Regions from separate parts of the Homo sapiens genome. Here region 2 is linked to region 1. Evidence: fine-mapped expression QTL. Tissue or cell type: sun-exposed skin. Region 1 holds a variant in brackets; the other region holds the start of a gene. All regions are shown on one strand. Distances are between the middles of the regions. Region 1 overlaps AKNAD1 (AKNA domain containing 1). Region 2 holds the start of AKNAD1 (AKNA domain containing 1).

Evidence for each region. PIP is the estimated chance that this variant, and not a neighbour inherited with it, causes the effect.
Region 2: it holds the start of AKNAD1, and the variant in region 1 is the best candidate, but not a certain one, in a credible set for the expression of AKNAD1 in sun-exposed skin (GTEx, PIP 0.83).

What each region holds. Positions count from the first base shown.
Region 1 is chr1:108,832,833-108,837,226 of GRCh38, forward strand. AKNAD1 (AKNA domain containing 1) reads right to left here. Exons shown (of 16, transcript NM_152763.5): 8 at 2,097-2,224; 9 at 1,615-1,696. It overlaps LOC105378891 (a long non-coding RNA gene), which reads left to right. Exons shown (of 5, transcript XR_947687.3): 3 at 1,358-1,504; 4 at 3,417-3,636; 5 at 4,129-4,171. Among named protein-coding and RNA genes, the nearest start is that of AKNAD1, 22 kb to the right of the region's middle. The variant C/T (reference allele first, on the strand shown) is at 1,982.
Region 2 is chr1:108,855,340-108,859,733 of GRCh38, forward strand. It overlaps AKNAD1 (AKNA domain containing 1), which reads right to left and starts at 1,755. Exons shown (of 16, transcript NM_152763.5): 1 at 1,590-1,755. It overlaps SPATA42 (spermatogenesis associated 42), which reads left to right and starts at 1,878. Exons shown (of 3, transcript NR_034168.1): 1 at 1,878-2,162; 2 at 2,819-2,928; 3 at 3,046-3,185.

The DNA of each region.
Region 1 (4,394 bases):
TCTGGGGTAGGCTCAAACTGGGGACACCAACATTCCCACGCACTGCCCTCAGCCTATAAACCCCCATGGACTTCCTAAAGGCCAGATTATCAGAATTTTCAGCATGTACCATTTGAACCATTAACTGCAATCCTAGGGTTTTATTCTAAGGAAATGATCAACTACAAATGTTTGCATGTCAAATGATGTTACCTGAAGCAGTGTTTATGATATCAAAGAACTGGAAAAAACTAAATCTCCATCAATAAGAGATTGTCTAAATGTGTCAGAGTACATTAGTATAATGAAATATAGTACAGTCATCAAAAATGAAGCGATAGTTTATTCTAAGTGATGTGGAGAGCTGCTCAAAATATAACATTAAATGAAAAGCATAAAACAATATATATAGTAAAATCCTATTTTGGCCAAAATGTATATATAGGAGAAAAAAAGACTGGAAGGATATACACTAAAATATTAGCAATGGGCCAGGCGCAGTGGCTCATGCCTGTAATCCCAGCACTTTGGGAGGCTGAGGTGGGTGGATCACCTGAGGTCGGGAGTTCTAGACCAGTGTGGGCAACGTGGTGAAACCTCCTCTCTACTAAAAATACAAAAATTAGCTGCACGTGGTGGCACATGCCTGTAATCCCAGCTACTCAGGAGGCTGAGGCAGGAGAATCACTTGAACCCAGGAGGCAGAGGTTGCAGTGAGCTGGGATCGCACCATTGCACTCCAGCCTGGACAACAAAGCGAGACTGTCTCAAAAAAAAAAAATTAGATTGATTTTCCTCTCAGTGGAAGTTTCTTCTTTATACTTTTCTTTATTTTCTCATTTCTCTTGTAATAAGCATGTATCAGTTTTATAATTTAAAAAAAAAGGGTTTTTTCATCCATTTTTCCCATGGTTTTTTTTTTTTAATTTTTATATTTTATCATTGCTGAGCTTACAGGGTTACTCCTCCACTGACATTTAAGGCAGATTTACATTAGCAGAATGCAGGGAGGTGCCCCTCCACCTGAGTTGGAGACCCGGGCATCACCTATCATTTACCCTGAACAAATATCACCTTTCTAAACTACTCTTCCTCTGCAAAAAGTCTTTGCAAACTGTAAAGCTCTGAGCCAACATAATTATTATATCATTGTTTACTGCTTATTATAATATTATAATATAATATCATTTAAGACCCCGGGGTTGGTAATCCCAGCATTTCCAATTCATTCGAAATGAAATAATCTCTAGACCCTCAGAATTTAAAATGTGGTCCGCAGACCAGAACCAGCAGCTTTGGCATCACCTGGGGCTTGTTAGCAATGCAGAATTGCAGGCTCGCCCCAAACTTACTGATTCAGAGCCTGCATTTTAACAAGATCTGCAGGTGATTCATAGGCTCGGAGAAGTTGGAGAAGCTCCGGTCTAGGTACGCCTGCCGAGATTCTCAGGAGTGCAGAAAGTGGGAAACCGTCAGCAGTACCAGCCATCACCAGCACTGACACCCAGGATGCCATTAGGAAGAGGTAAGTGATCTTGATTATGCCAATTTCACAGTCACATTCAGCAACACTGGTTTTAGTTAAAGAGCCAACAATGAGAAGAACCCAGCCAGGCCCCGGCTGCAGGACATTACCCCAGAGTTAGAAGACAGCCTCATGGCCACTTGGTCTGGCTTGTTCTGGGCAGCTGCATCTCCATAATGACCGTTTAGGTAACTAATTTAAAAAAAAAAAAAGCAGTTTGAATGTTAGAATCAGTTCTTGAGCTACCTGGGAGCTCCACTATTTGGAATCACTTGGCATCACCCCTGGGATGGTGGGAGCGAGCAACCTAAGGCAGAGAGTGCTATGGGCCTCATGCGGCCACTTGACCTTCACCTCTCCCCGCGTCCCCCAGCCCCAGCTGTCCCGTCCCTCAGATCTCTGCCCAGAGGGTTGCAGAGGCTGGCCAGGCCCTGCTGGTGGGGCAGGTGAGGAGCCAGGCTACCAGGCTTTGTAACT[C/T]GTGGTCCAAGACTGCTTTTCCTGTGGGAGCCTCATGGGCCTTCCTGGAGGCTGCATGAGGAAGGGGCCTCTTTCTGTGTCCTGTGTCTGCTGGGGCTCCAGGGCTAGGACTCACGTCTGCGGGGCCAGCTCACAGAGCTCCTCGTTGGGGGCCTCCTGCGGCCCTCCTTGGGGTGTCCCTGTTACCTCACTCCCACCTGAGCCTCGAGGCCCAGAAGGGTGGCCGGGGTGCTCCTTGGGAATCTGGGGGAGCCACACAGAAAGACTTGAATTAGAGCCACAGTCCCACTGGAGGTGACTCAAAATCAGTTCAGCATCCCTACAGCACCCCTAAGGCACCATAACATCCTGCCTGGCGTCCCCCCACCCCTGTCTCCCCCAGCTCTTTACCTAGCTGTCTTCTCATCCTCCAAGACTCAGTCCAAATCTCACCTTCTCTGAAAAACCTTCTCCCTTAGTAATTCAAACCTTCTGCATTTAGTTACTTTTGGTCATATCCCATTACTTAATAGTCATGATAGCTAACACCCAGGAGTAATGTACTCACTGTGAGCCAGGCCCTATTTTCAGTACGTTACTTATATTAACTCATTTAAACATCATAACAGCCCTGTGAGGCAAATATTATTATCTGCATTTTACAGAAGAGAGAACTGAGGCACAGAGAGGTTGCATAACTTTCCTAAGATCACAAAACTAATAAGTGACAGAGCCAGTATGTGAACCCAGGTAGTCTGGCTTCAGAGTCACGCAGAATGTATTATTATTTTCTGCACTGTGCTTTTTAACATTTCATAATTATATGTTAATTTAATTTTTTTTTTTTTTTGAGATGGAGTCTTGCCCTGTCACCCAGACTGGAGTGCAATGGCGCAATCTCGGCTCACTGCAACCTCTGCCTCCCGGGTTCAAGCGATTCTCCTGCCTCAGCCTCCCAAGTAGCTGGGATTACAGGCGCCCGCCACCACGCCCGGCTAATTTTTTGTATCTTTAGTAGAAACGGGGTTTCACCATGTTGGCCAGGCTGGTCTCGAACTCCTGACCTCGTGATCCGCCTGCCTCAGCCTCCCAAAGTGCTGGAATTACAGGCGTGAGCCACCGCACCTGGCTTAATTTGTTAAGTATATGTCTCTCTTACAGAAATGTAAGCATCTTGAGGGCAGGTGATTTGTTTGTTGTTCATGTTTTATCCCCAATACCTAGAAAAGTGCTAGCCTATAGCAATACATACTGCTGAGTGAATGAAGGATGCCAGCACTAGACTCTTTCCAGAACCACTTACCACAAAGTTATTTAGAGAGTTCTCATCATTTCACAACAGTAGCTGTAAACTTGGGACCAAGTAAAGAAGAGCAGATCCAGACCCCAGGGAGCTGCCAGGTAGAGGGCAGGGCCAACCCTGAGGTGGCCTCACAAAGACTTGTGACTCCTGCAGGTCCAAGACTAGCAGGGCAGCCGCTGTGAGCCTGGAAACTGCTTGGGTGCCTTGAGATGGGCTGTTACATCCACGGTGGCTCAGGGCTTCCTCTATGAAGCATCGACTCTCCTGGGCTTTCAGCTGGACATTCAGGATTCAAAGATGAGTGCAGAGTCACAGAGACAAACGAGACCCAGTGCTGCGGGGACACAGAGGCCGGGGCCAAGAATTCCTCCAGGTGCGGGGGATTGGGGGGCTTGGGGGTGAGGAGGGTGGCTGACTAGGGATGCATAAATGACCTGACGCTAGAGCTGGGCCTTGAATGAGTGAGATTTTGCCAGGCAAGTAAGTGCTTTGAGGAGGCAAACACTTCTTCGGAAGGGCTAACCTTGACATAATCTTTGTCACTTTGTCCTTCGCTTTGACAAAATCCTCATTCAAGTTTGAATATCAGCCCCAGGCTGTGTCTTCAAATACTGTATGAAACTAAAGAGTCAATTTAAGGTATTTATTTAAATGATTCTGTTTCTCAGAATTTTGATTTTAGTCTGAATGTTCTGATAGTTGAGGCTACAAAGGCAAAAAGTATAGAAAGACAGTGGTGGTTAATTTGAATTCCCAATCTTGCATAAGTAGAAATCCAAAAGAATTTAACTTGAGAGAAGGAAAATGCAGAAGTGGATTCATGGGAAATAATTATTTCACTGAGTGTGCTATTCTTTATTTTCAGGTGGCTCATGCCTGTAATCCCAACACTTTGGAAGGCCAAGCGGGCGGATCACTTGAGGTCAGGAGTTTGAGACCAGCCTGGCCAACATGGTGAAACCCCATCTCTACCAAAAATATAAAAAATTAGCCAGGCAGTGGTGGCATGCACCTGTAATCTCAGCTGCTTGGGAGGCTGAGGGAGGAGAATCACTTGAGCCCGGGAGACAAAGGTTGCAGTGAGCTGAGATCGTGCTACCACACTCCAGCCTGGTGAGTACAAAACTATGA
Region 2 (4,394 bases), 23 kb after region 1:
GAGGCAGAGGTTGCAGTGAGCCAAGATCGCGCCACTGCACTCCAGCCTGGCGATAGAGTGAAACTCCGTCTCAAAACAAAAAAGACATAATCTCTACAAGAACTTTAAGACAATTTTAAAACTCAATCTGTAAATAAATATATTTGAAGGTAAAAAAAAAAATCAGGCTGGATGAGGTGGCTCATGCCTGTAATCCCAGCACTTTGGGAGGCTGAGGCAGGTGGATCACTTGAGCTCAGTAGTTCAAGACCAGCCTGGCCAATGTGGCAAAACCCATTTCTACTAAAAATACAAAAATTAGTTGGGCATGGTGGTGCATCCCTATAGTCCCAGCTACTTGGGAGGCTGAGGCAGGAGAATCACTTGAACCCGGGAGGCAGAGGTTGCAGTGAGCCGAGATCATGCCGCTGTACTCCAGCCTGAGCAACAGCAAGACTCTGTCTCAAAAAAATAAAAAATAATAAATAAATAAATAAATCACTAAGCAAGTTTAAACAAAATATTGTCTAATTTTTTAGAACAAAAAAAAACAGAGTATCTTTTTTTTTTTTTTTTTAGACAAGGTCTCACTCTATCACCCAGGCTGGAGTGTAGTGACAACACCATGGCTCAACTGATCTTCCTCCCTTAGCCTCCTGAGTAGCTGGGACTACAGGCGCACACCACCACACCTGACTAATTTTTAATTTTTTTTTTAGAGATGGAGTTTCACCATGTTATTCAGGACGGTCTCGAACTCCTGAGCACAAGTAATCCACCTGCCTCAGCCTCCCAAAGTGCTGGGATTACAGACATGAGCCACTGTGCCTGGCCTGAGAGTATGTTTAAATGCCTACAGAGAGAATGGAAGAAGAAGAAAACAAATTCTAGTTTTGCAAGACTTTTAATGACCCAAGTATCAGTCCCAAAGTTATCCTCATGCTTTCTTTACATTTTCAGGAGCTCATTGCCAAACGCCATACCCTTCTTGTATAGAAAGGAAAGATACTTTGTTGGCCAAATTCCCACTTTTAAAATATAATTAATTAAAACTGATAAAATTTGAATTTTGCTCTGGCTCTCAAGAAAAAGAAAAAAAGTCCAGGCACAGTGGCTCATGCCTGTAATCTCAGCACTTTGGGATGCCAAAACAGAAGGATTCCTTGAGGACAGGAGTTTGAGAACAGCTTGGGCAACAAAGCAAGACCCTGTCTCTACAAAGAAAAAAAAAATTAAAAATTAGCCAGCAGTGGTGGTATATGCCTGTAGTCCCAGCAACTTGGGAGGCTGAGATGGAGGATCAGTTGAGCCCAGGAGGTCAAGGCTGCAGTGAGCAGAGATCATGCCACTGCACTCCAGCCTGGGTGACAGAGCAAGACCCTGTCTCTCTCTCTCTCTCTCACACACACATAAACACACACACACAAACACACACACAGACAAAGAAAGAAAGAAAGGAAAAGAAAAGGAGTGAGATACCATTAAGATAAACCAGAAACCTGAGGAACACTCTCATTACATACAGGAAAACAGCTTCTGTTGTTATTATTTTTTGCATGTGTGCATGCAAAATATCAAGAGGATTTTTTCTGGAAAAGGACAATCCATACCCTTAGCAAGGTAATGAGCTTCTTTGAGATAACTGGAGGAACTGGAGCATCTTCCCATGTCAACACTTGGCTCAATCTTGAAATCCAAAGGCATATCCAAAGAGGTTCCACTCAGAATCCAACAGAACCTTTCTGTAGAATCCAAATTGATTTTCTGAAGTCAGGTGACTACATTTGGGGCCACGCCTGCTTATGCAGCTATCTTGACCATTATGTGCTCAGCAATACCTCACAAGTCACTCTGAGATGAACACTTTGAGCAAACAGGGCCAGGACATCACAGTGACCCAGGCTGTGAAAACACTTCAGGCCAGTCCCTGAGTAGGAATGGACAACAAGGTGGTCACCATGCTGACAGCTATTCCCTGTGTGATTTACTTTATTATGAAGTCTAAATTTGATGCTGAAGTGCTAGCCTAAGCTCACTAACCTGCCAACTTAGAGAAGAAGGTAACCATGGCTAGGATGACTGGGAATCTGATGGACTCAATTAAGAATTTCTACAGATGGGAAAACCAAAACTCCTTAGTGGCAAGAGGCCAAAGATGGTCAGCGAATTGTTGTTTCCGGCTGGTAGGTGACATTTCTTCTATTCGCTAAGCCCATTTTGTGATAACACAGTTTTCCATATTGACAGGATTGTTTTCATCACCAAAGGAAAACCGTGGGTCCATGTTCCTGTGACAATCTCTTTGTCTCATTCCCAACACCCTCTGTTCTGTGTTTAAACCTCTACAAACCAGGCAAACTGGGGACTATGTGTAGGACCCAGACATGGAGGAGAAAGCAGGCATTGTTTCTACTTACCTTATCTGCCCCTCCACTAAGGTACCAGTTAGTACAACCACGTAACACTCACAAGTCCTACACTTCTAAGATCAGCCCTACTGACTTTGTCACGGTAAGAGTTGGCTGTTGGAGGCAATGATTCAACAATCTAAATTCTGATTATTCCTTTTTGTATCTGTCATTTAGAATGTGAATAGTGTACATCTAAAAGCTTTAAGTACATTATCCATCAATTTTTACTACACAAAGCAGTATGCTGCTCTGTCTTCAAACAGCACAATGCTACAGTCAACACAAAGGGCAAAACCATGGCAATATGGCAATTGCAATAGAAACTCACCAACATCTTGGAGTCTCTGGATATCACAGGTGAACAAGTTGAAGGGCCTTGCGACACAGACAAGCAACCCTTTAATTCTAAATCATCTTTTTTTCAACAGTTGGAAGTTGACTGCAGTTGAATAACAGAACAAAAACGGAGCTTCAAAATCATGGCGTGCCTGCTTCTTCTGGGTTCTTTTAACTGCAAGCAATCAGCTTTGAAGAGCACGTAGGGAACTTCTGATGTGATACAAACTTTTGTCTTTTTTTTTTTTTTTGTCTTTTAAGAGCATTCAAAAACACTTGGTCTGGCTGTTTCAATTTTCTCTTTCTCTCCTATTCCTAGCTCAAGAATAACATTTACATATGAAAGAAAATAGGAGATGGCTCAGAATAATATGTCCAAGGCCACGCCCAGGCGTCAGGGATTCATGAATTTTGTATACAGTGTATGATGTTTCTAGATTAAAATATTTTCAAAGGTAACATGATATAGGCTCCCTCTGTAATGACTGCATTTGATTATGCTCTGGTAATTCTATCAGCTAACTTTATCTCAGAAATGTGGGGTACCCACAATGCAGTGCCTCAACTGTAACCATATACCATTCAGTGAGGCTGTCTAGCTTCACCCTGTCATTGTGGGGTGGCAGAAGGGAGACACTGTGATGGGCAACAAGTCAATCCAATACTCCTACAAGAGCCAGATGGATGTATTATTTATAGTCAGTCTTAGGGCTGTCGTCCTTTTGGGAGTGCGCATGAATTTGATGACCAGCTGTTACAAATTTGTTATCCTGAAACTATTTTAGAAGTTGGGGGGAAGGGAGGAAAGCCTTTTAAAAGTGCGAGTAAAGCAGTATTTGGAGAAACTTCCTGCCTGTGTTTTACCAGAAAACTTTGCTGGTTTTCCTTGCTCTTTGGTGAGGTTAGCCCTGTCTTTTTATCCAATTTTCCCATTGATGTAGCCTAGTGTGTGCTGTAAACCACGGACCTTTGCTGTGCTTTGGGAACATTTAGAAAACTCTTACCAATTAATTTTCTGAAAGTAATTCCAGTGATAAACTTTAAAACACATTGATTTAAAGAAGTATAATGTCTTTTTTTTTTTTTTTTTTTTTTTTTGAGAGAGAGTCTCACTCTGTCACCAGGCTGGAGTACAGTGGCGCAATCTTGGCTCACTGCAACATCCGCCACCCAGGTTCACGCCATCTCCCACCTCAGCCTCCCGAGTAGCTGGGAGTACAGGCACGTGCCACCAAGCCCAGCTAATTTTTGTATTTTTAGTAGAGGCAGCATTTCACCATGTTGGCCAGGATGGTCTTGATCTCTTGACCTCATAACCCACCTGCCTCGGCCTCCCAAAGTGCTGGGATTACAGGCATGAGCCACCACACCCAGCCAAAGAAGTATAATTTTTAAATTTTATTTATTTATTTATTTTGTAAAGATAGAGTCTTGTTGTGTCCCAGGCTGGAGTACAGTGGCATGATTATGGCTCACCACAGCCTCTACCTCCTGGGTTCAAGCAATCCTCCTGTCTCAGCCTCCCGAGTAGCTGGGACCACAGGCATATACCACCACACCTGGCTAATTTTTTTTTTCTTTTTTTCTTTTTTTTTTTTTTTTGTAGAGACAGGATCATGCTAGGTTGCCCAGGCTCATCTCGAACTCCTGGGTTCAAGCGATCCTCCT